Linked DNA regions of Homo sapiens: regions 1, 2, 3, 4, 5 and 6 are each linked to region 7. Evidence: fine-mapped expression QTL. A gene starts in region 7. Each other region holds a variant in brackets. All regions are shown on one strand. Distances are between the middles of the regions. Region 1 overlaps LOC101927066 (a long non-coding RNA gene). Region 2 overlaps CPQ (carboxypeptidase Q). Region 3 overlaps CPQ (carboxypeptidase Q). Region 4 overlaps CPQ (carboxypeptidase Q). Region 5 overlaps CPQ (carboxypeptidase Q). Region 6 overlaps CPQ (carboxypeptidase Q). Region 7 holds the start of CPQ (carboxypeptidase Q).

What was found. PIP is the estimated chance that this variant, and not a neighbour inherited with it, causes the effect.
Region 1: its variant is fine-mapped to the expression of CPQ in whole blood (TOPMed, PIP above 0.99).
Region 2: its variant is fine-mapped to the expression of CPQ in whole blood (TOPMed, PIP above 0.99). The same link has a PIP of 0.9 or more in blood mononuclear cells and lung.
Region 3: its variant is fine-mapped to the expression of CPQ in whole blood (INTERVAL, PIP above 0.99).
Region 4: its variant is fine-mapped to the expression of CPQ in whole blood (INTERVAL, PIP 0.97).
Region 5: its variant is fine-mapped to the expression of CPQ in gastroesophageal junction (GTEx, PIP 0.98).
Region 6: its variant is fine-mapped to the expression of CPQ in whole blood (TOPMed, PIP above 0.99).

Annotation. Positions count from the first base shown.
Region 1 is chr8:97,172,939-97,177,007 of GRCh38, forward strand. All of the region lies in intron 2 of LOC101927066 (a long non-coding RNA gene), which reads right to left. It overlaps LOC105375655 (a long non-coding RNA gene), which reads left to right. Exons shown (of 2, transcript XR_928434.3): 2 at 1-4,069. Among named protein-coding and RNA genes, the nearest start is that of TSPYL5, 100 kb to the right of the region's middle. The variant A/G (reference allele first, on the strand shown) is at 2,512.
Region 2 is chr8:97,054,056-97,058,124 of GRCh38, forward strand. The region is part of intron 6 of CPQ (carboxypeptidase Q); the gene reads left to right. All of the region lies in intron 2 of LOC101927066 (a long non-coding RNA gene), which reads right to left. Among named protein-coding and RNA genes, the nearest start is that of TSPYL5, 220 kb to the right of the region's middle. The variant C/G (reference allele first, on the strand shown) is at 1,527.
Region 3 is chr8:96,850,278-96,854,346 of GRCh38, forward strand. All of the region lies in intron 3 of CPQ (carboxypeptidase Q), which reads left to right. Among named protein-coding and RNA genes, the nearest start is that of CPQ, 210 kb to the left of the region's middle. The variant G/C (reference allele first, on the strand shown) is at 2,086.
Region 4 is chr8:97,059,721-97,063,789 of GRCh38, forward strand. The region is part of intron 6 of CPQ (carboxypeptidase Q); the gene reads left to right. All of the region lies in intron 2 of LOC101927066 (a long non-coding RNA gene), which reads right to left. Among named protein-coding and RNA genes, the nearest start is that of TSPYL5, 220 kb to the right of the region's middle. The variant C/A (reference allele first, on the strand shown) is at 2,415.
Region 5 is chr8:96,838,291-96,842,359 of GRCh38, forward strand. The region is part of intron 3 of CPQ (carboxypeptidase Q); the gene reads left to right. Among named protein-coding and RNA genes, the nearest start is that of CPQ, 200 kb to the left of the region's middle. The variant C/CAG (reference allele first, on the strand shown) is at 1,710.
Region 6 is chr8:97,046,884-97,050,952 of GRCh38, forward strand. The region is part of intron 6 of CPQ (carboxypeptidase Q); the gene reads left to right. All of the region lies in intron 2 of LOC101927066 (a long non-coding RNA gene), which reads right to left. Among named protein-coding and RNA genes, the nearest start is that of TSPYL5, 230 kb to the right of the region's middle. The variant G/A (reference allele first, on the strand shown) is at 2,065.
Region 7 is chr8:96,642,752-96,646,820 of GRCh38, forward strand. It overlaps CPQ (carboxypeptidase Q), which reads left to right and starts at 2,491. Exons shown (of 8, transcript NM_016134.4): 1 at 2,491-2,651. RefSeq lists a silencer at 2,366-2,915.

The DNA.
Region 1 (4,069 bases), 530 kb after region 7:
TGTTCCTTTAGGTTGCTCTCTAGTTTTCAGCCTTGTTTGTGTCCCCTTAAAGCTGCCATTTGGAAAGCTGAATTTTCAGAATGGGATTTGGCAAGGCAAATGGAGCCTCAGTTGGGAGAGACTATCTGTCCTGCAGAGAAGGTTATGAAAAAGGACAGGATGGTGGATTCCAGCAGCAGGTTTAGAGAAAGAAAAAAAGAGCGATGTACATACTCACATACATAAGCATCTTGAACTGCTTTTATGCAGAGCTTGGGTTCAGCAAGTCCTTAGCATATTTCAGCCCAAAACCCTTGTCTTATTTTATTTTTCACCCTACGATATGTTTCAGAAAAAAATGTAATCTGCATCTTTCTAGTTCTTCTGACTTCAATTTTGTCCTTCAAATTTATTAGCCCATCTTTTAAACTCATACAGCTATTCTTATATAACAACTCCACTCTTCTATAGCTAAGTAGATGTTTATGTCTTTTGTGTTTATGTCAGGGATTTGTTGTGAGAAAGTAGGGGGAAGGTTGCTTCCAAGAATTTGAAATTTCTTTTTCAACCCAGAAGTTTCTAAGAGTCACGAGCATCTGCTCTGCTAGTCTAGAGGGCTCAAGTCTAGGGCGCCTTTTGAGGTATGATGCTTCATTCCTTGGGCTCTGATGTGGGACTGAGTTTGCTTGCAATCTAGGACCTAATATCCTAACTATTTCCTTCAGCATCAGGACTGGTTATGCCCATCTCAAGCCAACTTAGGGTTAAATGTAAGAAAACGTTTTCATTGTAGAATGCAATTTGCCAACCAAAACTTATGCCAAAACTGAAATCTGAAGGGAGAGAGAACAAAATGGGGTCACTTTTACGAACTTTTGCCAACCTGGCTGGGCTAAATGCAGCACAAAGCAAGAGAACTGGTTTTCTAACTGCACCTCGGGCAAGCACAGTGACAGAAGTCCTTTAGGAACCACACATCACCTGCAAGACATGGAGAAAGTGGAGATTCAGCAAGGAGCTGGATTCTTTGCACAGATAATTTCAAACTTGTCCTTTCCCTGCTCTTTCAACTGGTGAGATACTCTGCAAGATTTTCTGCCTCATCCTATTTTGTTGCCAACCTATCTCCACTCAATCCAGTTTTGCCCAGATATAATTAATGGCAACAAGAGCTTTCCAGCCTACAAAATTAATGTGGAAATGGCTGAAACAGTGTCTTGATGGCAGAAGGAAGAAACATTTCCTTATAATTTGCCATGCAAACAATCCGCTACATCCGTAACTGTGCCTTTTCACATGCAAATGAAGGAGCCAACCTGATATATGATCTTAATTGGGCCTCTTTAGGAAAGGAAGTCACATCTGAACTTGGCTTCAGGAACTTCTACCCGCATTCACCTTAGTACATAAGGTCAAATGAATATTTTTTAAATGAATGCCTCACTGTATTTCTTTCCCTGCCTCCCTAGGCTATTTCATTCAGATTCAAATCTCATAGTCCAGGCATTAATACTGACAATTCATCTGACTGTTTAACAAAAAAGGGAGATAATTTCTTACATACAGAAACAGATAAGCCACTTCCTCAGATTTGATGAATTTAAATGCCTAACTTCATCTTAGAAAGAATAAAGCCAGTAATAGTGAGAGGAAGTCAGAAGTGGGCAGGGCAGACCAGGTAGGCCCTTATAAGCCTTGCTAAGACTTTGGATTGGAGGGTTGAAAGCGGGACATGACATGATTTGAATTAATATTTCCTCTTTTTATTTTATTATTATTTTTTATAAAGTTAGGATTCAAATTCTATTTAGGATGCTATTTTAAAAAGAGAAAATGCAAGACCTGAGAGAACCAGAAATCACCAGTCAGGAGCTGCCATATTATTTTCAAATATTCTCCTCTAAAAGTGGAACTGCCCACACAACACGAGCATACTCATTGGTCTTGCCACACAAGGAAGAATTTGTGAGAAAAGTCAAAATTCAGTTTATAACATTCTTTCTCCATAAATGATCAGAGGATATCAACTTTTTCTTTATGATATGACTTAGGCTAAGAACTGTGATCCTGGATGAAACTTAGCTTCCTTGGCCTCCCTGGCTTCTGCCTATTGTCAGGCCTCTGAGCCCAAGCCAAGCCATCGCATCCCCTGTGACTTGCACGTATGCCCCCAGATGGCCTGAAGTAACTGAAGAATCACAAAAGAAGTAAAAAGGCCCTGCCCCACCTTAACTGATGACATTCCACCATTGTGATTTGTTCCTGCCCCACCTTAACTGAGTGATTAACCCTGTGAATTTCCTTCTCCTGGCTCAGAAGCTCCCCCACTGAGCACCTTGTGACCCCCCGCCCCTGCCCACCAGAGAACAACCCCCTTTGACTGTAATTTTCCATTACCTTCCCAAATCCTATAAAACGGCCCCACCCCTATCTCCCTTCGCTGACTCTCTTTTTGGACTCAGCCCACCTGCACCCAGGTGAAACAACCAGCCATGTTGCTCACACAAAGCCTGTTTGGTGGTCTCTTCACAC[A/G]GACGCGCATGAAATTTGGTGGATCAGGGGACCTCCCTTGGGAGATCAATCCCCTGTCCTCCTGCTCTTTGCTCCATGAGAAAGCTCCACCTACCACCTCAGGTCCTCAGACTGACCAGCCCAAGAAACATCTCACCAATTTCAAATCCGGTAAGTGGCCTCTTTTTACTCTCTTCTCCAACCTCCCTCACTATCCCTCAACCTCTTTCTCCTTTCAATCTTGGTGCCACACTTCAATCTCTCCCTTCTCTTAATTTCAATTCCTTTCATTTTCTGGTAGAGACAAAGAAGACACGTTTTATCCGTGGACCCAAAACTCCAGCACTGGTCATGGACTGGGAAGACAGACTTCCCTTGGTGTTTAATCATTGCAGAGACACCTCTCTGATTATTCACCCACATTTCAAAGGTGTCAGACCACATAGGGAGGCCTGCCTTGGTCCTCCACCCTTAGCGGCAAGTCCCGCTTTTCTGGGGGAGGGGCAAGTATCCCAACCCCTTCTCTCCATGTCTCTACCCCTTCTCTGCTTTTCTGGGGGAGGGGCAAGTACCCCTCAACCCCTTCTCCTTCACCCTTAGCGGCAAGTCCTGCTTTTCTGGGGGAGGGGCAAGTACCCCAACCCCTTCTTCAGTGTCTCTACCCCTTCTCTGCTTTTCTGGGGGAGGGGCAAGTACCCCTCAACCCCTTCTCCTTCACCTTTAGTGGCAAGTCCCGCTTTTCTAGGGGGCAAGAACCCCCAATCCCTTATTTCTGTACCCCAACCTCTTATCTCTGTGCCCCAATCCCTTATTTCCATGCCCCACCCCCCCTTCCCACTTTTCTGGAGGGTAAGAACCCCCAAAACCCTTCCCTCCGTGTCTCTACACCCTCTTTTCTCTGGGTTTGCCTCCTTCACTATGGGCAACCTTCCATCCTCCATTCCTCCTTCTTCTCCCTTAGCCTGTGTTCTCAAGAACTTAAAACCTCTTCAACTCACACCTGACCTAAAACCTAAATGCCTTATTTTCTTCTGCAATGACGCTTAACCCCAATACAAACTCGACATAGTTCCAAATAGCCAGAAAACGGCACTTTCAATTTTTCCATCCTACAAGATCTAAATAATTCTTGTCGTAAAATGGGCAAATGGCCTGAGGTGCCTGACGTCCAGGCATTCTTTTACACATCAGTCCCTTCCTAGTCTCTGTGCCCAGTGCAACTCATCCCAAATCTTCCTTCTTTCCCTCCCGCCTGTCCCCTCAGTCCCAACCCCAAGCATCGCTGAGTCTTTCTAATCTTCCTTTTCTACAGACCCATCTGACCTCTCCCCTCCTCGCCAGGCCGAGCTAGGTCCCAATTCTTCCTCAGCCTCCGCTCCTCTACCCTATAATCTTTTTATCGCCTCCCCTCCTCACACCTGGTCCGGCTTACAGTTTCGTTCCGTGACTAGCCCTCCCCCACCTGCCCAGCAATTTATTCTTAAAAAGGTGGCTGGAGCCAAAGGCATAGTCAAGGTTAATGCTCCTTTTTCTTTATCCCAAATCAGAAGCGTTTAGGCTGTTTTTCATCAAATATAAA
Region 2 (4,069 bases), 410 kb after region 7:
GATATCAGACTTTCATGTGGAGAGGTCAAGTAGGCAGTTTGGTAAAAAGTATAGAGTTCAATGAATTGACATTTCTCAAAAGAAGATATACAAATGGCCAACAAACATATGAAAAAATGTTCAACATCACTAATCATCAGGGAAATGCAAATAAAAACCACAATGAGATACCACCTTACCCCTGGGAGAATGGCCATTATTAAAAAATCAGAAAACAATAGATGTTGTCGTGGATGTGGTGAAAAGGGAACTCATACACTGCTGGTGGGAACGTAAATTAGTATAGCCTCTATGGAAAACAGTATGGAGATTCCTCAAAGAACTAAAAGTATATCTACCATTCTATCCAGCAATCCCACTACTAGGTATCTGCCCAAAGGAAAAGAAGTCATTATATCAAAAAGACACCTGCACATGTACATTTATCACAGCATGGTTCACAATTGCAAAGATATGGAATAAACCTAACTGTCCATCAATAGATAAGTGGATAAAGAAAATGTGTTACATACATACCACGGAATACCACTCAGCCATAAAAGAGTGAAATAATATCTTCTGCAGCAACTTGGATGGAACTGGAGGCCATTATTCTAAGTGAAGTAATTCAGGAATGGAAAACCAAATACCACATGTCCTCACTTATAAGTTGGAGCTAAGCCATGGGTATGCAAAGACAAACAGGGTGGTATAATGGACACTGGAGACTTAGAAAGGGGGAGAATGGCAGGTGAATGAAGGATGAAAAACTACCTATTGGGTATAATGTATACTATTCGGGTTACGGGTGCACTAAAATCCCAGGCTTCACTGCTATACAGTGCATCCATGTGACCAAAAAACCACTGTACCCCTAAAGTTATTGAAATAACAAAATGTTTTAAGTATAGAGTTCAGGGGGGAAGTCTACAGATAGCCATAGGCATGGAGTTTTCTTCATATAAATGCTCCATCTGAATGGAAAATAATAGTTACCCTCTCACAACACCCCTGTCCCCCTGTCCAATGGAAGCTCAGCTTCTATGTTTTCAATGCTGTGATTGTTGGTTTTGCTCTCCAGGGAATATAGTGCCCTTAGAGGCTCTGTCTCTTCATCTTGAAGATCCCCTGGTCCTAGGGTCTGGATTCTCCACAAGCCTCCTTTATCACATCATCATGATCCTCACTGGAATCAGTCTCTCTGAACTGTTTTCTTCCTCCTCCTGATGTCTCACTCCCCTCTCTCCTTTCTCCAGGGCTATTGTTGCCACCAGTTCCTAAAGCCATTGGTTGCACCACCTTTCCTTCAATAAGTCAGCTGATGTAATTGGATAGAGATGGTTTTGTGGCTAACTTTTTCAGCCTTTTGAGGTTCAAGTCCATATTCTGTAGACAACTTGAGGCTTCTTTAGTCATAAAGCCAAATAAATAATAACTCAACTCTCACCTTCAGATTCTCCCTGACCAAGATCATTTCTCCCATTTTCTAAATAGGCTGAAGGAAGGCAAGGGCTGAAACGGAGACAGGATGCTACTGCAGTACTCCA[C/G]GTGAAGGCTGGTGGTCGCTTGGACTGAGTCAGAACAGGGAAACTGATGGGAAGTTGTCGGAGAGTAAGTCTATGTTGAAAATAGAGCCAACAAGATTTGTTGATAGATTGCATTTTGGGTGTACAAGCAAGAGAGGAGTTCCAGAAGAAACCAACTCTACCAGCACCTTGATTTTAGCCCTGTAAGGCTTATTTCAGACTTACAACCTCCAGAACTGTTAGAGAATAAATTTTTAGGCCGGGCACAGTGGCTCATGCCTATAATCCTAGCACTTTAGGAGGCCAAAGTGGGTGGATCACCTGAGCCCAAAAGTTCAAGACCAGCCTGGGCAACCTGGCGAGACTTTTCCTCTATAAAAACACAAAAAAATTAGCTGGGCGTGGTGGTGCACCTGTAGTCCCAGCTACTCAGGAGACTGAGGTGGGAGGATTGCTTGAGCCTGGGAAGCCAAAGCTGCAGTGAGCCAAGATCATGCCACTGCACTCCAGGCTTGGTGACAGAGTGAGACCCTATCTCAAAACACACACACACACACACACACACACACACAAATTGTGTTGTTCAAGTCAGTGACTTTGTGGTAATTTGTGACAGCAGCAATAGGAAACTAATACACAATTAGACATCTAAGTGGAGGTACTGAGTAGCTGTGGGATATGAGTGTAGAATTCAGGAGATGCATGAAAATATGAATTTGGAACTCATCACCATACAGATTTATTTAAAACCATGAGCCTAAATAAGGGTTCCAACACAGTAAGTGTGATAGAGAAAAGAAGAGGCCTTTAGTCTGTTTCTGAGCACCCCAATTTCTATTGGTCAGGAGGATGAGAAAACCAGCCAAGAAAAATGAGAAGGATCATCCAGTAAAGCATAAAAAGAGCCAAGAGTCTGAGGTTCCAGAAGCCAAGGCAAGAATGCATTTCCAGGAGTAAACAAATGTCAAGTGCAGCTCCATCACAGGTTTGAAATTTGGTGCTCACTAATGGTTTCCACTTTAAATTTTTTGCTAATGCCTACAAAAATTCTAGGAGGGACAACCAATGTTTGAGAGTGAGATACTCTACAGAACATGCTTATATTTATCCTTTTAGAGATTGCCTAAGCTCTGATCCTCTCTTGGAAAGCTACATTCTGGACATTAGTTGGATGCTTAGAATAAAGTCATCTGTTCATTTGACAAGTATTTTCAAGTGCCCGTTAGCTAGGTTCTGAGAATATGCTGATGAACTAACAAGATCCCTGCTCTCATGGGAACACTTTCAGTCTAGGGTATTTGCTGAGGCCAAACATCACCTCTTTTATCAAGCTTTTGCCAACATTTTTCAGTAGTTGCTTTCCCTTCTTTGTACATATTCATAGAACTCATCACATTTAATGTATTAGCCAGTTATTGCCTCTGCTGGTAAACTCTCCCCTCCTTTAGGAAAGCAACCCTATCTTAGTCATCTTCATATATAGATACCCTCATATGTAGGTTGGAAATATGATTTATTATTAAAACCAGGAAATGTCTGCAAGAGAAAGGAGGCTCTGTTAATTAACACCAAGACAGGGGATGTAAACTGGGACTTCCTAGGGCAAACAAAAATGTATAGTCACCCTATCACTCAAGTTTACGTCAAAATAACTGTTGAATAAATACATTTTGCTTCCTGAAAAAACACATTTACTGAAATGTGACTTAATATTTTGCTTTTGGCTTTAATTGAGGATCAATATGTAAGAAATAGTGTTAGGAAAAGTGTTTCTGCATCTTTTGTAAAACTGTTATTGGAGACTGTGTCCATTATTTTGTCCAGCGTTCCTCATATAAAGAGCCATGTAATTACTCCCCTTAGAACTGAGCGCTAGAAAAAAATATTGCTTTTTTCAAGGAGATGGTGGTGCACTTTCTCTTCCTAGATAATGAGAGCTCAGTAATACATCAATCACGCTCTCACATTGGCAGCCACAAGCTAGAGCTAAATTATATCCTCAAGTTGCTTTTAAGGCTGTGTCAAAATGTTCCAAATTGTGACTTTTCCTTTGCCTTAAACATTTATTGTTCACCTACTATGTGCTTAGTTCTGTTATTTAATCTAGAGATATGGCAGAGATCCACACACGTGATTCCTGTGTTCATGGCATTTTCTTGGTTCTAGCACATTTACCTACTCTTTTAGTACAGTATTTGGACATTTTCTTGTAGAGAGCCTTAAATTTTTGCAGGAGCAAGGCAGGCATTTAAAAAAAATTGAATGAAGTGCAATAGGCCAACAAATTAGGGAGGGGTATGGACGGTAGTCACAGAAGGCTTGGGCAGAAGTAGGGCATGAAGTCACTTGAGCAGACCAAGGAGCCCTGAAGTTCATATTTTGGTACTTTTGTTTTTCATAAGGTTTCAAACCTGCTAATTTTCTTTTGAAAAAGAAGAAGGAAAGGCCCGCCTAAGAAAATATAATTATTTCTAAAGTTGTGGTTAGCATCTTTACTAATATTTGTAAAGAGTACTTGATCAAATAAGGCATATGGGGATACTGTCACAATCCAGAAATGCTGA
Region 3 (4,069 bases), 210 kb after region 7:
AGGGGAAGGGCCTATATGTGTTAGTGTTAGCTGCCTGGCCTTCCTCTGGGGCTTGGTTTTTAATCTCCAGGGAGGCAAGGCTGACAAAATGTCATCTATTTGCCTACTAAGGAAAGAAGCTGTGAAATAGATCTCCATTGCTTATGCACCTCAAGTCGCTTAGTTCCAGCTGTATCCATAATATCATGGTGTATTTAAAATACTGCTCATTGCAATCCTTTTGAAAAGAGATTCTGATGCTCGTAAATACTCCAAAAAGGCATTAAGGTGTTACACTGATTTTTATTTTTATTTTATTTTATTTTATTTTATTTATTTATTTATTTATTTATTTATTTATTTATTTATTGAGATGCAGTTTTGCTCTTGTTGCCCAGGCTAGAGTGCAGCAGTGAGATCTTGGCTCACCACAACCTCTGTCTCCAGGGTTCAAGCGATTCTCCTGCCTCAACCTCCCTAGTAGCTGGGATTACAGGCATGTGCCACCACACCTGGCTAATTTTATATTTTTAGTAGAGACAGGGTTGCTCCAAGTTGGTCAGGCTGGTCTGGAACTCCTGACCTCAGGTCATCCACTCAGCCTCCCAAAGTGCTGGGATTACAGGCATGAGCCACTGCACCTGGCCGCTTTTTATCTTTAATTGGATTTATTCCCTTTAGAAAACTTAAGTTTGTGGATTCATATCCAAATATTGCCCTTTACTGATCTAGCTTTTTCTGCTGTAAGTTCTAGGAACCTTTTAATTCAGAGAGGGGTAAAGAAAAGAGCTAGCATACACTCAATAGCTTTTATGTTTTGGATGCTTCATAAATATCACCTCATTTGGACCCTTACAAGAGCTTTGGGAGGCAGGGAGCTTTAGACACATTTTACACCTGAGTAACTTGATCAGGACATTTTGAAAAAAAGGTTTTTGATTATCTGTTTTTCAACTTGAGAGAGTCGTGAGATAACTAAACTACAAATGAAAAATACGTAGGTAAGTCTCTTTGTAAGGTCATATTCGTAAAGGTTGCAAAAGAGACCAAACAATGTATTCCAATTGAGAAGTCCAGGTAGAGTATTTGGTTCATTTGTGCTGCTATAACAGAATACCATAGACTGGGTAATTTATAAAGAATAGATCTTTATTTCTCACAGTTCTGGATCCTGGGAGGTCAAAAAACAAGGCACTGGCAGCTTCTGTTGTCTGGCAAGGGCTGTTCTCTGCTTCCAAGATGGCACCTTATTTCTTCATCCTCCAGAGGGGAGGAACGCTGTGTCCTCACATGTGGAAGAACAGAGGGACAAGTGAACCAAATCTTTGTGTGAAACCTCTTTTATAAAAGCCTTAATCCCATTTATGAGGGGAGGAGCCCTCTTAAAGGCCCCACCACTTAATATCATCACATTGGCCATTATAAGTGTCAACACCTGTATTTTGGAGGGGACACTTTCAAACCATAGAATAAAGAAAACGAAAGGGGGAAAACTGCAAACAAATGTGCTATGAGATTAGATGGATTTGAAGGGGACTCGACAGTCTTGGGCCCTTTGTTTTGGAAGATGGATTTTGAAAGTTATCTTTTATTGTATTCCTGTGAGGCCCATTTGTTTCCTACCCTTTTCTCTTGTCCCCCTCTTCCTTCTCTTTATTCAGTATCTTCCTCTGGCAAATAGCAGTTACTAAATTTGGTTCTCTGTTATCTTCCAACTCGAAAGGCAAAAGGCACAGGCAGTACCCTCCTGGTAATTATTTATGATATTTCTCCTTCCAGAGATTTGCCCTATGGCAGCTTCAATCCGTTACCATCACTTTTTATTTTTTTGCCCATATTGGCAGCTTCCCAAGACTTTGGGAGGAAAAAGCAGATCTGCAGATACGCAAACCTCAAAATCAAGACTTGGTTAATGAAATCACTCCTCCACTTGCCCTTGCCTGTTACTGAATCCTGTTCCAGCTGGGATGGAAAAAGTGCATTGGTCATGCTGTCAAAAGCATATCACATTTCTCCACTGCTATTTCCTTCCTTCTTAACTAAAAACAAAACAAAACACCATAGACAACAAATAGACACACACACAAAAAAAAAGACACTAGGTGA[G/C]AGTGAAGGTAGTTTGTACTATTTTCATTTTTCGTGTGTTCAATCGTATTTCTCTCAGCAAATATGATTGGAAGTGGTGCTTTTCCTTCCTTCCCCACCTTCCAGCATTAGGTTTGTAGGTGAACATAAAAATACACTGACACTCAAAGAAAGAGCTCTTTCTGCTCTGCACACATCCCATCTCGCCCTCTTCCTTGCTCCTGCTTATTTCTCTCTCTTTCTGCCTCCTTACCTCCTTCAGTTTAGAGCTTAGAGAAGTTTTTCACTCTTCTTTTGACAGGTGTCAGATAGACAGTATGAGCTCATTTAAGCTGAACTGTCTGGGGGAAACTAAATTTGTTCAGGAGAATAGCAATTTGGATGACAAGTGCCAGGACATACCAGATGGCACGGCTGGAGAAATTCTTATCGGGCTCCCAGCTCACGTTCCAGGCGGCCTCTCTGTCTCTCTCCTCTATTCTTATTTGTTCATGGTTGACCCAGATGGAAACTTGAAATGCAAATGTATTTCTTCTTGGAAGTTTCCAAGTAAAAAAGGTGATAGTGACTCAGCATAAGATGCTTACATGCCCCCAAAAGAATAGCCAGTACTTGTTATTTATGCTTATTACTACTGATGCTTCCCAGACCCCTGTGGGCACATATTTGAAGAAGTCTTAATTGTGAGCCCTAAACTGATTGTGTAATTCCAGTTGTTTACTAAAATAGGACTGTTACCTAAGCTGCAAAATATTTGATGTTCTTGTCAGGATGTGAATGGAAGTGTTCTTAAACATTCTTCCTCAGTTGCCACACAGTTTGACTGATTTTGTTGGCCCTCACTTTCCAGAAAGGGAACCGTGGACATAAATGTCATGGGAAGGTATTTAGTAGAAGGTGTGATTTTTGGGGGCGCATATGAAACATTCTAAAATTCAAGGCCAGGGCGCTGTGACAGGCTCTAATCTATGAATCATTATATTCTTAACATATTCTGAGAACAGGAAGAGAAAGCTCAACCTTTATAGACACAGATGGAATTTCTCCTGTGAAGACTGGTAATTCATGTGACATTTGCTGTTTGCTTTTGTTTGCAGTCAAATTCTTTCTCTCAACCTTGCACTGTGCTGTTACTGGTCACTTAACAGACCTTCTGAAAGAGCAATATAAGTTTATATTTTAGGTACACAAACAAAGCAGATGTTTATAATACTGGGCATGATTTTTTTTTTTTTTGGTCAATATTTGGTTCACATGAGAAGATCAACTTTTTCTAGCCTGTATACTTTGGCTCTGAATTTACGTGTTTTGAAAGGTTTGTTGTTGTTGATAATTTAGTGATGAAACTTACTCGTGGAAAAGGCTTATTGTGAGTGAATAAATAAATAGTATAGGCTAAAGTGTGTGTAGCCTACATTATTTGGTAGTGTAGTGTACACTCCACATACTTTTATCATTTTAATTTTCTACTAAATTATGCATGTCCTGGTATTAGGATTCCCATAGTCATGGCAAAACCAATGATGGTAACGCCATACTTATCTGGAGGTTAAAGTTTCATTAACAATTTAAGGTGGAAATCAGAGAAGAAGGCCTCTGAGCCAGCCTAATAGCTATTCTAACCCCACACAGCAAGGTAGTATATTGTATTGCTGCTCTTCTCACCAAGAGCTTCTGGGCCTTTAGCACATTATTTTTAACATGTTTAAATTTCTGGGTTTTGTGGACACATCACATTAGCAGATGTGGGAATGATAGAGGTTATTTTGACATACAGAGAGGAGACAAGAAAACGGAAGTGTAACCACAAAGCTGGGTTGCCACATCCTATGGAGGTGTAAATTCATAAGGATAACATTGAGTCACCCAGAAAAGTTGTATTGTGTCTTCCTTTTAAGAAACAATGTGGGCCGGGCGCGGTGGCTCACGCCTGTAATCCCAGCACTTTGGGAGGCCGAGGCGGGCGGATCACGAGGTCAGGAGATCGAGACCATCCCGGCTAAAA
Region 4 (4,069 bases), 420 kb after region 7:
TTGCAGCAACTCAGCACACACATTGTAAGATGATTTGCTTTTGAGAACTTGTTTTGAGCCTACCACCTGACCAAACAGCATCACCACCATTATCTGTAAAATATTTACATTTACAGGGCAAGAAAGAGTTACTAAAATTGATTGCCCTGTGTCAGTGTGGAGTTTACTTCTTTGAAGAATAAATTGAGGAGGCTACATGATTAATTCAAATAGTTAGGAGTCTCTTTTCTTTCCACTTGATCTTGAGACTTCAATGTCACTTTAAGTCAAATTCAAAGACATGTTGAGAAACATGAGAAAATACGTTTATTTCATTTATTTTTCCATGGTGGTCTCATAAGTTATTTTTTCTAGGTTATGAGAAGATAAAAAACTTTTAAACAAAGAAGCCAAATTTGGAGAGAAAGGAGCTATTATTGAACTTGGGTCTATGTTTCTGAAAAGTAGCCTAGAATTTTATAAAAGCAAAAAACAAAAACATCATCCTTGTGTTTATATTAGGAAGTATTTTAAAACATGCAATATGTATTTTAAACACTTTTCTTTTGAATCTTGCGTTGCACCCAAAGAATGCTAATGGTAACCAAATTGTTCTTTGGCAGAGTAGCCTGACCCTTAAAAAAAGGAACAGAAGTGTTACAGCATGTGATTGTAGCACAAGACAATTATGAATCCTCAACCCTGAGCAGATATTAACTAATCCTATGATCTGACCATAAGAGGTTACCTTGGAGCATTCCTCTACATTGCATTATGTATATTACATGGTAATGAATGACAGTTTTCATGGCTCCTAATAATGAGCAGCTTCTCTTTATTTAGAGAACAAAATAGGGGGTTTACAGATAATATCTGAGTTTATCATTGAGCTGCTCAGCCTCCTCTTCTATGTGCCTCAGCTTGTCTCAATCAGTGCTGGTTATCTCAGCAATAAAGCATTCAGCCTCTAGAAGTTGGTTTCTTCCTACACCCTATAAACAAGAGGATGAATATCTTGTTACATGTGCTAAAATGAGTTGGGTGAAATGAGCATTACTCTGCTCCCTGTCACTAGCTATAATCAGCTTTTCAAATCTATACTGAGTGTGTCCCCACACATAGCACACTAAGGAATAAGGATGTTCGTGACAATATATTCCTGAGAAGCAGCAGTTCTAACATCCCAGTGACAGCTATTCATTCCAGTTTCTTTGTGCAGAGACATTGTCCCAACTCCTTCACCATGTGCTAACAATTAGATAATGACTCCATAAATGTAGAGAAAAAGCAGTGTCATGGACGGTGGGTAGTTTGTTTTCTTAGTTCTTTATTGAAAACATATGGAGATGTTTATATATAAATAGAAAACAATAAAACGCTGCCATCATGTAAGCAGCAACTTAAAAAGTTCTACACGAATAGAAATCAAACATTTCTATACCTATGCCAGAATTCTGGTTTACTGATATCTACACATCCTGTCTTATTTGGCTTGAAAAGATGTTTTATTATTTTAGGCTTTTTATTTATAGTTGGAAGCAAATTGTGGAGCAAGAGATTTTTGTTTTTGTTTTCATTTCTTTCTTGGCTTAAACAAATTACTTTTTTAGCAGGAACAACAACTTCTGTCCAAGTATACCTTGTGTTATGATCATGAAAAAAAGTTTTTAATGTATACATTTAACTACGGTCTTTGTATTTCTGAATTAAAAGTGAGGACTTGTGGCCTGACAGAAGTGACTTTCAGGAGACCCAGCAGTGGAGAGGTTGAGAGCACTGCTTAGGAGGTAGAAGCAATTCCTCTGGGTTGGAATTCTGGCTGCACCACTTAACTAGCTAGGTAACCGTGGGAAAGTTAGTCAACCTGACTAAACCTCAGTTACTTCATCTGTCAGATGAGAAATATAAGAGCACTTAAAGAATGATCATGCACACTCATGGGATGAGCTGTAAGACGTTACACATAGTGTCTGGCTCGTAGGAAACATCACAGAAATGCTGCCTAGCATCGTTGTAATCAGCTAACAGAAGGGCTTATATTGAGACCATCCTTGAAAATCTGAGAAGTGTTGATGCTCAGTGCCAAGAACAGTAACAACAGTAATGCTACTGTTTACCAAGTGCTAGTTATGCCCTAGCCTTTACAATGTACTGTTTTTGACAATTCCATGAGCTGGGTACCATTATCATCCCCATTACAGCTAAAGATTGGTTGATGTGAGGGTCAAACCCAGTCTGGATCATTCAGAAGCCCACACTCTTGATCTCTCTGCTAAAATGGCTGCCACATATATAGCCTAGGGCACCTTTGAAACCTTCTTTATTTACACTATTCTCTATGTTCCTGTCAACATCCTGTGACATTGCACAATGGCATTCACAAACTGTGAAGTCCCCTGTCCCTAGGACATCTGTTCATTTGTAGTTAAAGAGGA[C/A]CAGGAAACACTTAATGAACACATTATTAGAAGCCCTGGTTTTCAATTCATGCAACCATTTTTGCTTTGGTTTAAAGGCCTTTTCTTTAAAGGTGCTTGAAGCTTCATATGGACAGGCTCATTATTCAAGCTTTTGTCCCAACCTACAGATGCAGAAGCCAAGGACCAAAGTAACATGACTTGGGGACAGAGGGAGAGGCCATTCACCTGCCTTGGTAGCCCAGTGTATCAGTTGCTGAATCAGGAATACAACAGACTGAGCCCAGGGCAGTGTCCAACTCATCAGGCTGCTCATTAATGTTGGGTCTAACAGCCAAACTGCTAACTAGCTCCACTTTTTAAAAACTTCTATTTTAAGTTCAGGGGTACATGTGCAGGTTTGTTACATAGGGAAACTTGCCTCCTGAGAGTTTGTTGTACAGATTATTTTCTCTCCCAGGTGTTAAGCCTAGTACCCATTAGTTATTTTTCCTGATCTTCTCCCTCCTTCCACCATCCACCCTCTGGTAGGTTCCAGTGTGTGTTGTTCCTCTCTATCTGTCCATGTGTTCTCACCATTTAACTCCCACTTATAAGTGAGAACATGTGGTATTTGGTTTTCCATTTCTGACTTAGTTTGCTAAGGATAATGGCCTCCAGCTCCATCCATGTCCCTGCAAAGGACATGATCTCATTATTTTTGTGGTTGCATAGTATTTCCTGGTATATATGTACCACATTTCCTTTATCCAGTCTATCACTGATGAGCATTTAGGTTGATTCCATGTCTCTGTTATTGTGAATAGTGCTGCAGTAAACATACACATGCATGTGTCTTTATAATATAGAATGATTTCTATTTCCCCTTAACTGGTATATACCCAGTAATGGGCTTGCTGGGTTGAATGGTAATTCTGTCTCTAGGTCTTTGAGGAGTCGCCACACTGCTTTCCACAATGGTTGAACTAATTTACACTCCCATCAACATTGTATAAGTGTTCCCTTTTCTCCTCAACCTCACCAGCATGTACTTTTTTTAGTTTTTAATAGTTGCCATTCTGACTGGTGTGAGATGGTATCTCATTGTGGTTTTGATTTGCATTTCTCTAATGGTCAGTAATATTGAGCTTTTTTTCATATGCTTGTTGGCCACACGTATGTCTTCTTTTGAGAAGCCTCTGTTCATGTCCTTTGCCCACTTTTTAATGGGGTTGTTTTTCTCTTGTAAATTTGTTTAAGTTCCTTATAGATGCTGTATATTAGACCTTTGTCAGATGCATAGCTTGCAAAACTTTTCTCCTGTTCTGCAGGTTGTCTGTTTACTCTGTTGATAGTTTCTTTTGCTGTACAGAAACTCTTAATTAGGTTCCATCTGTCAACTTTTGCTTTTGTTGCGATTGCTTTTGGCATCTTTGTCATGAAAACTTTGCTAGTTCCTATGTCCAGAATGGTATGCCTAGGTTGTCTTCTGGGTTTTTATAGTTTTGGGCTTCACATTTAAGTCTTTAATCAATCTTTAGTTGATTTTTGTATGGTGTAAAGAAGGGGTCAAGTTTCAACTTCTGCATGTGGCTAGTCAGTTATCCCATCATCCTTTATTAAATGGGGAACCGTTTCCCCATTGCTTTTTTTTTGTCAGCTTTGTCAAAGATCAGATATTTGTAGGTGTTCAGCCT
Region 5 (4,069 bases), 200 kb after region 7:
CATAATGGTTTCAAGGGGGTGGTCAGAATGTGGCCTTCTGCTCCTTTCCATCTGTGGCTCTATCATTTTTGAGATCTGAGTTCTCTGCAGAGTCTTCTGCATTCATCTGACGCATAAGGGGATAGAGAGAGAAAGTCGATAACCTAGAGGGAGATTTTCCATGGTTATCCATATCTAGGCCTGGATATGGCACACCTCACTTCTGCTGACATTCTATTGGGCAGAATGCTATTACATGGAGGCTAGGAAATTTGGCCTATCTTTATGTCCAGGGTGAAAGGAAAGTGAATTTGGTGAAATACTGCCCAGTCTGCCCCAATTGCCTGTCTCCACACTAGACTCTAAGTTCCAGAAAGACATTGATTACGTGTATTTTTTAACCTCTGGATTCCTATCATCTAGTATAATGTTTGAAACATGGTAATAACTTAGGAAATGTCTACGGAAGGAATGAATTTGTCTGAGGATGTAGAGTAAATCATGGCAGGGCTCTCGTAACAAACCAGCTGACCCGGTTCCTGGTGCTCTTTGTCCGAACTATGTAACCCATGTATAGTAAGTTTGAAACAACTTGAACTTTTAGGGTACTTTGCTCTGCATTTGGAGGAAAATATTCAGATGCCCAATATGCCAGATTATACATTTTTTCTGCCACTACACTTATGAACAAAGATGTTTTGAGTTGCTGATTAAGGAAAATAGCTCCCTTCTCTCTGAAAAGCATTTCACCTCTATGGGAGTGGGTGATACTGGATTTCATCTAAAAATATTATAGAGGTCAGCAACACTAGAGAACATTATATTATATATATATATATATATTATGATTTGTTGCTGTTGGATTCAAAATTTGAGAATCCCCTGGAGGGTAGTTTGATTTGACCAGTTTGATTGGACACTTTGTGGTGTAATCATCAATATCATCAGCCATTTTGGGTCTGCAGTGGTCACACAGTTGCATGACAGATGTCCTGAAAAAATGTCCATTGCTTGTTGTCAGCATCGTCTCCAGGTTCATTATTGTTATTCTCTGTGTTGCCATTATTAGTGTTCTTGGGCTCAACTTTACTTCTAGGAGATATTCCCTTTATTAATGCTTTTCTAATGACACTTCTTTCCATCACCATTATCAACTGAGACCCCCCCATTAGAGCTTTTTTAGTTTTTCTGATGGTAAAATACCTTTCTTTGCTTTTGTCCTGGGAAATATGTTTTAAGAATAAATGCAATTAATTAGAGATTTAAGTCCCACAGAGGAAAGCTTCTCTATGGAACAATTTGTCTTGCATTATTTCTCTAATTTATCATATTGTTTAGTACATATTTCTTGAGAGCTTCCTAGTTGCTCAGAAATTTCCGAGTACTAGGATTACTAAGGTGAATTCCATGTGTTTTTTGTCCTCAAGAAATATTTTTATGTAGCCAAAAGAGAAGGGGGTAAGAACATGTAAGTGATTAGTGTTATTTATTTTATATTTAGTGCTAAGTGAATGATTGGGGGAAAGGGATAAAGAAAGGAAATTACTATTTATTAAGCACCAACTTTGTACTATTCTAAAGGGTTAAAGAGTTTGTCTCAATTAATTCTTTATGTAACCCAATAGAAGTAGATACTGTATTGGTATCTCTTTTACTGAAGGAGAGACAGGTTCAGAATGATTAATGGCTTATCATGCTACACATCTAATGAAAGAACTAGGATTCAAACT[C/CAG]AGTCTCTGGCTCTAACTTCCATGCTGTTAGATTGTACCAAGCAACCTGGAGAGCTAATGCTATAGGAATCTAGAGGAGATAACAGAAATCTGATTGGGGTTGGTTGCACTGACAATGTGGATTTGGGGTGTGTTCAATAAAAAGGCAGAATTGACCAAGAGAAAGGAGGTGGAAAGACTCTCTGTAAATATCAAAGCAAGGTGGGACTGCATGATATATTTGGGTAAAACACAAGCAGATCAGTTTAGCTGGAGCCAGGCCTCCTAGGGGGTCAGAGAAATGCAATTCTGGGGTGAGAGGAAGAGACCAGGCTTGAAGAATTCAGGGTAGCAGATTAGGCAGTTTTAAGTCTAATGTGGAGGAAATGGAGAACCATGGAATGTGTTAAAGATATGGGGTGAATTTTACAGCAGTGGTTCTTGAAGTGTGGTCCCTGGAATAGCAACATCAACCTATCTAGGAGCTTATTGATGTGCAAATTATTAGGCCCCACCTAATACCCGTTGTATCAGAAAAGCTAAGGGTGGGGTCCAGCAATCTGGTTTAACAAGCCCTCCAGGTGATTCTGATACACATTAAAGTTTAAGAACTACTGTTTTAGAAAGATCAATTTGGCCATTGTGCATAGCATGCATTAGACAGGGAAGGACAGGTTACTCCTCTAATAATGCAGATATGAAGTAATGAGGGCATAGATGATGGCAATTGGAATGGAAAGAAATCAGCAGGAGGCATAGTATGAGAACATTAGAACTTGGGGATTGATTGTATTCAAAGGGGGAAGGAGTAGGGGTCCAAGTTGATAGGCAAGGATTAAAATCTATGGGATGAATCTGTATTTAGTTCAGCCCAAAATTTAAAAATCTTAAGTTTCAAATAACAATAAGGATTTGTGGTTTTAGAGAAAAACCAGATTTGGTGATATATCTTGTATGTTCCATTGGGCAAACTTCAGCTGAGCAGATTAGCCATCAAATTCTTCTTGTTGATGGGATGTCCCCCCTCTTATCTGCCAAGTTTTCCCCTCTTTTTTTATATACTTTATTCATTTATGTTGCCTATTCGAGTCCTGTAGATATTTGAGCTGATGATCCCTGCTCTAAGGATCCCAGCTTGGGGACAGGAGAATAAGAAATGTAGGGGTCGGGAGAGGGAGCTGGCTTGGAGGGAAACCAGCCAGTTTGGTTTCTAGACATTTTGAGTCCGAGGCAACTGTAAGATAGTCCCATTAATCTGGTCTTTATATTTTGCAAGAAAAACAGTTCAGCATTTCCATTTCTCTGTTGTCCGCTTTTTAGATCACCCAAGGCAGTTTAAAATTCTAGGCTGGCTTTCTTGCAATACCTTGGGACTTCTGCCTCCTGCTTTCTTAGCATGCGAGCTCAAGAATGCAAAGTAATTTTTATATTAGCCCATGTAAAATATAATTCAAAAGGTAACTCTACTGAGGCCAAACTGTTTGTTGTATTCCCACTGCCACACATACATTTTTTCCTAGTTATTTTCTCCATTGCCCCAGATAGTTGAACAGGGACTGCGACTTTTAATCAGCTAAGGAAGCAAAAGACTTTCTCTTCACTTTACTGTGAAAATTGCATCACCACACTGGGTATGAACTCATTGAGGTGGGAATGAGTTGTTGATAGGGCTTGGCTTTGGAAATACTACTGGCTGATGTTTTATATCACTTGGCCTTTGTGTACTGTATTGACAGAGTATAGTGAAGAGGAGGAGGAAGAGGAGCAATTTAGTTTGAAGATGACTAAGAGCTGATTAAACATTCAGCTGGGGAGAGAGATGAGTGAATCCAGGTGATGTTTATGGAGTGTCAGAGAGGGAGAATGCTATACCATCTGGTGAGAGAGACATGAAAAAGTACATAAATCAATCTCTATAATGATACTTAATTAATACAGAGTTGATAAATGACATAATTGAAGCAATGGGTGGGCTACATCATAGAGTTAAATAGCTTCAAAGAGGGTGCTGATTAAAGCCATTACAATTTATAAAACATTCTTCATGTTAAGAAAGCATCTTGATGAGATTTCACATGAACATTTTGTAATCAGAGGGCCAGCTTAAAACACTCAGAGCAGAGGTGAAATGTCTTAAGAGGTCTATTTTGGATGATTTTTGAAAACCAGTTATTCTCAGGGAATAAAAAAGCTTGCTTTCCCCACTCCCTTTGTTTTTTAATGGGAAAAAAATTAATGTTGCATTCTTCACCTTTAGACAATCTCAGATTTTTGATGTCCTGGTGGTTTGGTTCTTAAGCATGACCTTAAGATAATTAGCTATCAAGCTTCATTTAAATTGTTTTGAAATATCATTGCAATTTGGGGAGCATATGTGCCTG
Region 6 (4,069 bases), 400 kb after region 7:
AAGGAACATAATAGTAGACAGACAGAAAAGTGCTTTGTGAAAATTACCCATTTTTTCCACGTAAGGAAAAGTAATTTGTTTTTTTTCAGTGCTAGAGATTTTTGTTTTGATAGATTTACAGAGAGAAAAGAAACCACCAAGAATTTTGAAAGGTCCCATTTCCCAAACAAATATGTAACAAGTTCTTACCATTTAAAAGATGGCATTATAATCTCTTGCATCTATGTGATCATTTATAAATTACGCTTTCGTGGACATCAAGTCATTGATGATAGTAATGACCCTGGTGGTTGCCAGACCATGTACTGTTTTCCTTATTTCACACATGAAGAAACAGAGGCTCAAAGAAGTGAAGAATGTACCCAAGTTTGCATAGCACAGCCCATAAGGTGCAGAGCCTGAACTTGGACTTCAGCCATGACTTCTATGACCACATACTTCTCTGTCACCATCTTAAATGTAGATATCTACTAATTTGTCATAAACTGAAGGACATACATAGCAGCATATTTAGGAATGCTGGATAATCAGTAACATATAAATAGATGAAAGGAGAAGTTGCTTCAAGGTGCTTAGTTTAAAACACATATAGCATGGTATCAATTCTATACAATGGCCAAAGGATATTGTGTAACCATGCAGACATCAGTTGTCACTAGTAATTCTCAATGTTTTATATTCACACTTTCTTGGTATAAAAATAAATATTTGTATTTGTTCACGAAGTTAATTCTATAAATCCTGCTACAATGAGTTTTAAAAAAATAACCAACAACACTTCACTTCAGTCATCTGTGTAATTTTCCTTTAGTTTGGGGCATTTTCTAGGTAAAGTTTTAGCTAAACAATACAGAAAAATTAAAAAGTTCAGAGATCTTTTAATGATATGAAAAACTGTTTCTAATAATAATAAATGTTAAAATCATTTCACTATTCAAAAGACTGCGTTCAGAGCGGAGGCACCCTAACATACTACTCTAGGACATTTCTCACTGCCTTCATCTTCAAATAAAAGTGAGAATAGAACCCTAACCTTTGAGAGATGGAAATAATGCATGTATATGTCTGTTTTTATATCTTTCCCATGTGTATAGAGCTTAGACACTCTATATGTGAAGACCCTCCAAAAATCAAGTCTGGCTTTCTTCTTTCAGGATAACCATTCCCGAAACACCAAGGACAGGGATACATCAGAATGGACCCCTACCTGTGCTATATTTAAAGATCTCCAAGGATAGAGATTTTACGTATGTCAGTATTTTTTAACACTATCAGACAATGAGAATATTCCTGGCCAGGTCCACTTAGTGATTTCTTCATTGAAGGATACAATTTAGAAGATTGGAGGAGCAATTATAAAAGAAAGTAATACAATTTAGAAGATTGGGGGAGCAATTATAAAGGAAAGTAGCTGTAGGTCTCCAAAAGTTAAAGTCCCTTAATCCCAGTTGCCTTAGTAGTTCTTGCATGAAAGCACTAAGGAAGGATCAATGACTGGGAGATGGGATGAATTCTGAATTGCAAAAGAGACATTTAAATATTACTTGCAAACTAAACTCAAAGCACAAATAATTTAACACTGTTTTGTTTTAGTTTCTAAAAAAGTGGACTCTAATTCATTCTTTCCTTGTTCAGGAGATAAAACTATTTGTAACCTTTAACATGTTCTTTTCTTCACAGTTGAGAGCTCAGTTTGTTAATACTTTCTTTCCCAAACTGTTTTCTGAATGTATTGGAAAACTGCACCTGCCAGAATGGATTGGTGTTTGTTCTTCTTCAATGAAAGGTGGCTGTGATCAGGAGCTGCCCCTTTTAGAGAGCTTAAGCTGCCAAAGCCTAATACAACAGAGGTGGAACGGAAAATGAGAATGAAGGACATATTCAAAAATTTAACAAATTGTTGGTGCCTCAGGCATGAAGCCCATTGGTTTCCAAAGAATTTGGCAGAAAGATTTCTATCTTCTCATCTTGTAGGCAATTACCTTAATATGGCACACTTTTGTGATGGCTTTCATTGAAAGGCTCTGTTTAAACATCTTTTTCTGAATCACCAAGATAAGAATG[G/A]AGCAAATGAAGGGAAAAAAAATATTCACTTGTACACAAAGCTGCTACCTTCAATTCTCTGAAATTGTAGTTAATGCCTAATTATACTGACATTCCTATTGTACAAAAGTGTTGAGAATGCAAATATAATTTCCCAGCTAATTATTTCATTACATGGAAGTGACATGAGTGAAGTAATAAATTAGCATCGTCTTTATAAGAACCAGCAATTCTGGACTTTATAATATTGAAATTTTCAAGTGGAGTGAAGTGCTTTTTTCTTATGACTACTCTGATTAGGTGAAAAATGCCTTTTAAATTTATGTGTATAATACACCTCCTTCCTTCAGCAGATATTTTACCATTAATATAGGACAGTGATATTTATGTGAGTACATTATTACTGAGAAGGAGACCCAAAGGATGTCAAAGGGCAGAGCTGCCAGCTGCGACAGTCTGGCTTGTACTGCTTTTCTTAAATGTGGTTCAAAGCAATCAGATTATGAATTGCAGTGAAATAAACTTACTTTTATTTTTAAAATACAACCACCATTAACAGCTCCCCAGTTAGAACAACTGAATGTCAAATAATTGCATTCTCAAATTTAAACTAGAAAATAGTAGAGCTTGAGGAAGGGGAGTGGAAACTCAATAGTGACACATTGAGATGGGTTAGAAGGTATTCAGTTCTCCATTTCTTTGATTTAAGGATCGTCAATTGTTAGTGGTGCGATTAAAATTAATACAAATTTTCAGGAAAAATAAAACTACATTAAATGCACAGGGGTTTTTAAACTGACAATATCATACAGTGCCCAACACTTTTGTTTTTAGAATCAATCCATGTCTAAAATACCTTCAATCCAGAGTCTGCAGATGTCTCTGAACCCTTTGGTCATTAGCAGTGAAGCATTGGCATTAAGGTGCCAGGCCACTTTGTGTCACCCATGCTCCTTGTTTTGACAAGGTGCTAAAGGTGTACCCTTGTGGTTGGCAGCCTATTACAAGGCATATTGAACACGTTTTTCCTCTGTACTTTCAATTTGGCCAAGTTTTTTACACTTAATTTTTAATTTTAATATTTCTGTAAGCCATATAGCTTCTCCTGAAACTCTAAGGGAGCTTTTGGCAAATTGCTTAGTACCTGAGTGGGAGGCCTCCATGATTCATGGCTGGCTACACCAGTCTTTGCTCACCTTGAACACTCTAGAGTCTATTCTGAAGATTTGGCGATTTCTATTGTTTTTCATTGTTTTGCCTCACACATGAAAATCAATCTTCTGTGTACATCAAAATATAATGAAGAATTTTAATCAATAATTATGGACTGTAATTTAAAATTTAATGATCTGTGTTGATACCAGTGTAAATAAGTGAAGTGTAAAATACATTATCCAGGGCCCTTTCTGTGTGATGAAGTTTGCATGTGGACAAACAATGACAATGAATATATGAATACAATACAATGAATATGTTTGTTTATTTGCCTAGAATTTGGTAACTTTCTTATGGAATGCATCAATAACAAGATACATTCCAATTTCCAAAATGCTAAAAAAGGAGAATACTGTGATTCTTACATTTAGGGAAATATGGTATTTTATCTTTTGAATTTTATACTGGCAGAAACAGGAGATGCAAAAAATCAGAAAAACAAGCCAGACGTGGTGGTGCACATCTGTAATCCCAGCTACTTGGGAGGCTGAGGCAGAAGGATTGCGTGAGCCCAGGGTTTGTGATCAGCCTGAGCAACGTAGCAAGACCCCATTTCAAAAAAATTAGAAAAATTGTGCTTAAGTAGCCTTTTGGTCCTGATTTGCTTGAGAGTCCAGCTTGTACCCATTGTCCTGACATAATCATTAATAGAATCCCTTTTCACTCTCAAAAGTTTCCTGGCCTACATAGCAACTTAAGTAATGGTTACTCTACTTATTAGTCACTTTTGTTGGTAATAACAATGCCTCGAGAGAACAGAATAGCTTGGTATATTATAGCCCTTCAAATAAATATATTAAATTTATATAAT
Region 7 (4,069 bases):
TCTGTGCTGCTCCGAGGTGGGCTCCCCACCCTGCCCAACTTTTCTTCATTCTCCATGGGCCGGTGGTTTGCCTAGTCAGTCCCAATGAGAGAACCTGGATATTTCAGTTGAAGGTACTGAATTCACTTGCCCCTTCTCATTCCTCCCTGAGTGCTGCGGGCAGGGGCTTCTAATTGGCCATTATGGATTGATCTCCCTGCAGTGAAGTGTTCTAAGTAGGAAGAACACATGGTATTGTGGAAAATCAACATAGCATGGTGGCTCAGAAATAGATTCTGGAGCCAGGCAGGTTGCTTGGTTTGGAATTCTGGTCCTGCAACTTACTGCAACCTCTCTATGCCTTAGTTTCCTCACAGTTTAAAGAGGGATAAAATAATATCTATAGGTCTATTTGCGAGGTTTTAAAATTCTTGGAATAGTACCTGGCTCATTATACATGCTATAGAAATGCTTATTCAATTAAATAAATAAAAGCATCTTTGGTAAGATAACTCTGAACATTGTATGGTTTAGTAGAGGATGCTGACAAGAATAAATAATTAAAACATATCATGAAGTAAGCATAAAAGATAGTGGTAATGCAAAGATGCGAATGAGCTCTGCTTCCTGTGATTAGTGTGAGCAGACAAATTCACTGTACTCAGAAGCTTAAAGCCTAGCGTGGGAAGCTGACATGAATGAAAACCAACGGGAAAAAATGTTAGAGTAGAGGTGTAAGCAAGAGTGATTAATTTCAACTTGAAAGCAAATGGGGGAGGTTTCACAGAGAGGGGCCCAGCATGTTGGTTGATTGCTTGGGCTCCAGAATCAGGCCAGCTCAGTTTAATGCTGACTTTGTACCTCACTGGTTTTGTGACTTGACCTCTCTAATCCTCCATCTCCTTATCTGTACAGTGGGGGGAAATAATAATGATAATAATAGGTAGCTCATAGGACAAATAAGAATTCACAGTTAATGCATCAAAAATCTTAGCACAAGGCACTCAATAAATGTGAAGCTTTTATTGTTATTACGAGTTGAAACTTGAGTGGGAAAGAACTTCGTTCACATTAAACATGAGAAAAGGCCCAGAAGTTGAAAAGCATTTGACATAATTAAAGAACAGCAAGTCAGTGCCACTTAAACGGTAATCCAACCACCGCCAGTCAGTGAACAGCTTTTTACTGCTCCATGAACAGGTAAGTATAGAAATTGTGAGTAAGCATTTAGAAATAAAAACAACAACAACAACCAATAATTGAAAAACTAATTTTATACTTTTTGGCATACTCATTGTACACTTGTAATAAAAACTGGGCTTGTAGTTTTTGTCTCTTTTCTTATTTGCTAGCAGGTTTTGATTTGTATTTTACAGAAATAATGGTCCATGTCAGATTGGAAATAATAAAAACTTGTCTTTTACCCTTGATAGTTTGAGAAAAAAGTAATTCAGTGGGGTTAGATATGGCATCCGAGAGATGATTCGGGAAAGGTGGGCCAGGGCCATGTTTATGTGGACCCTCCAATGCCTCAGAGTTCACACTTGTTTCAGTGGGCAACAGGACTAGTAAGGTTTAGAGGGACTGTTAACCGAAGGTGAGTGGACTTTGCACATTTTATGGTATTTTTTTTTTCCCAGTAGGCATGTGCTTATTCTTTCTTTTCTTTTCTAATTAAAAGTTCTGTTTGGTTTTTTTAGTTAAGAGGAGAGACTGGAACTGCTCAGTGTTTCACAAAGATAACTGTTTGTATTTGATAAGAGTTTCGTTAAACAAAGGAATTTGCACTTATCAAAACATAAAGCATTGAAAACACTGAGCACATACTCTGTGACCAGAATGCGTGTGACTTGTTGAGATAAGCCACACCGGGTAATCAGATGAGTCTCCTTTCTTCTTGGGCACCCTCATATAATTCAGGCACAAACGAAAGAGAAAACGCTTTTTCTGATCTCTCAGTTCGGGTCATCTCTGCCTTCCATCATCACCGCCTAACAATCCTACACCTGGCAGGGTGGGAAAACGGTTTAATAATCTCTTCCCTTTGGGAGGCGTTTGACAGCTCAGAAAGCATGGCCTTTACTCAGGCTCAGAGACACACAAAAACCTTTCACGTTTTCCTTTCAGCTTCGCAGCCCCGTCCTTCTCCACCTGCACGGGCACCCACTGAAGCACAGGACCCTTCTGCCAAGCCATGAGCCTTCTCAGGCCCCTGCCGCCCGCCTCGCCTGAGGCTGCGCTTCTGAAAAGCACGCGGCCCTGGCCTGCGCACCACCCAGTCTGAAGGCGACGCCCCTGCACGAAGGAGTCAGGCCTAGGGGCTCGGGACCCAGGGCGACACTCAATTTTCTAACAGGAGCCACAGCCCAGAAGCTGAGAAGCCTTCCGGCCGATCTGTGGCCCTGAGGTCGCCCTTGGAGGGCGAGTGAGAACCCCCCAGGCGTTCCGGAGGTGGCCCCCAGCCCGAACCCGGCGCCCGCCCCGGCTTCCCGAGTCAGGTCTTTGCCCCGCCTCTCGGCCCCGCGGCCTGGCCGGCAAGCAGGGCTGCAGTCACGGGGCGGCGCGGAGGGCCCCAGCCCAGTCAGGGGTGTGGCCGCCGCCACCGTAAGGCTAGGCCGCGAGCTTAGTCCTGGGAGCCGCCTCCGTCGCCGCCGTCAGAGCCGCCCTATCAGGTGTGTTTGCAGCCGAACTGGCAGTGCCCGCGGGCGGCTGGGCCGAGGCCTTGGCTCCTACCCGCGGGGGTCGGGCGGGCTGAGGCTGGAGCAGGCCAGGGGCGGGGGCAGAGGGGGACGGACTTCCAGCATCGCTCATTCGGGGGCGTGACGGGAGGACCTGGCTGGGGAGCGGCGGGTTGGGAGCCTGTGGCTGCCCCTTCGGTGACAGTGGAGTCACCGAGCCTAGAAATGGGGAAGCTGTGACGTGGGGGTGGTGGAGGGTGCTGCGGGACAGCAGCGAGCACGGCCCTCAGCCGTCCTTCCCAACACGGTTTCACTTCCCCTCAGCTCCAGGGCTCAGCCCCAAGCCGCCCCCTTCATCCCCCATCTGCAAACAATCCTGGTCCCCCTGAGCCTCCAATATGCCTTATGCAGTTCTTTTGGGGTTCCTTTCGCATTTTACCGTGTACTTTCGCTTTTGATGCGTCTAGTTTCTGCTACTGGACTCTCCTAGAATCGAAGTTCCATGAGGGCAAAGTCCCATCTGACTTAGGACTCAGAGCTACTCAATAAGTAATTGAATGAGTACCTATGCCGTAGAACTGAGTGAATTAACAAATGAGTAAGTGAATAAATGAGTGCATACGAGATACAGCTGAATCAATCAGTGCATGAGTGAAAATAAAGATGTATGAAGTGGAAGCAGTGGAGACGCAGGCTTACAACTCCTGTTTTTTGATAGCTTTCCAAAAAGTTGTGTGAATGTCGCACTTTTGCAAATGGAGGCATTCTGATTGGGACCACTTAAAAAGAGTTCTATGCTGTTCAAATGGTCTCTGGAAACGCCCCCTGGTATTTCCATTTTTGTTGGACTTGGCTATATGTGTTTGCTTAAAACAAAATATGCCTAGGTTTTTTCTTGCTTGTGTTTTGTTCACTTCTACTTTGGACGTTTAAAGAATCATTGTCACTATAATATTATTTCATGTATTTCTTAAAGATAAGGGTGACTCTGAAGGCAGAACCATATGACTCTGACTTGTTTGTAAAACCAGGCTTTTCTTTTGAATTCAGAGTTGTTAAGAATCTTGTCTGTTTTCCTGAGACAGGTGCTGGCTGATTTGCAGGTGACTGAAGAAGGCTACATAAGGCCCAGAAAGACGCTTATCTGTTTGTAAACAAATAGGCTTAGCACATAGCTTTAATACAGTTGGTCACTGCAGCCGTTCTTACTTGCCAGGTCCAGGTTCCAGAAGAGCTGGATGACCTTGGACTTGCCACTTGATCTCTTTAGGTTTTAATTTCTTAATCTCCAAAATGAAGATGTTTAGCTAGGAACCCTGCCTGAGTTAAACCTCTGGGATTCTTTTGTATCAGGGTTAGAAGGTGAAATTACAGATGATTTCATGGAGTTCTGCTTACTTCACCTCCCATAG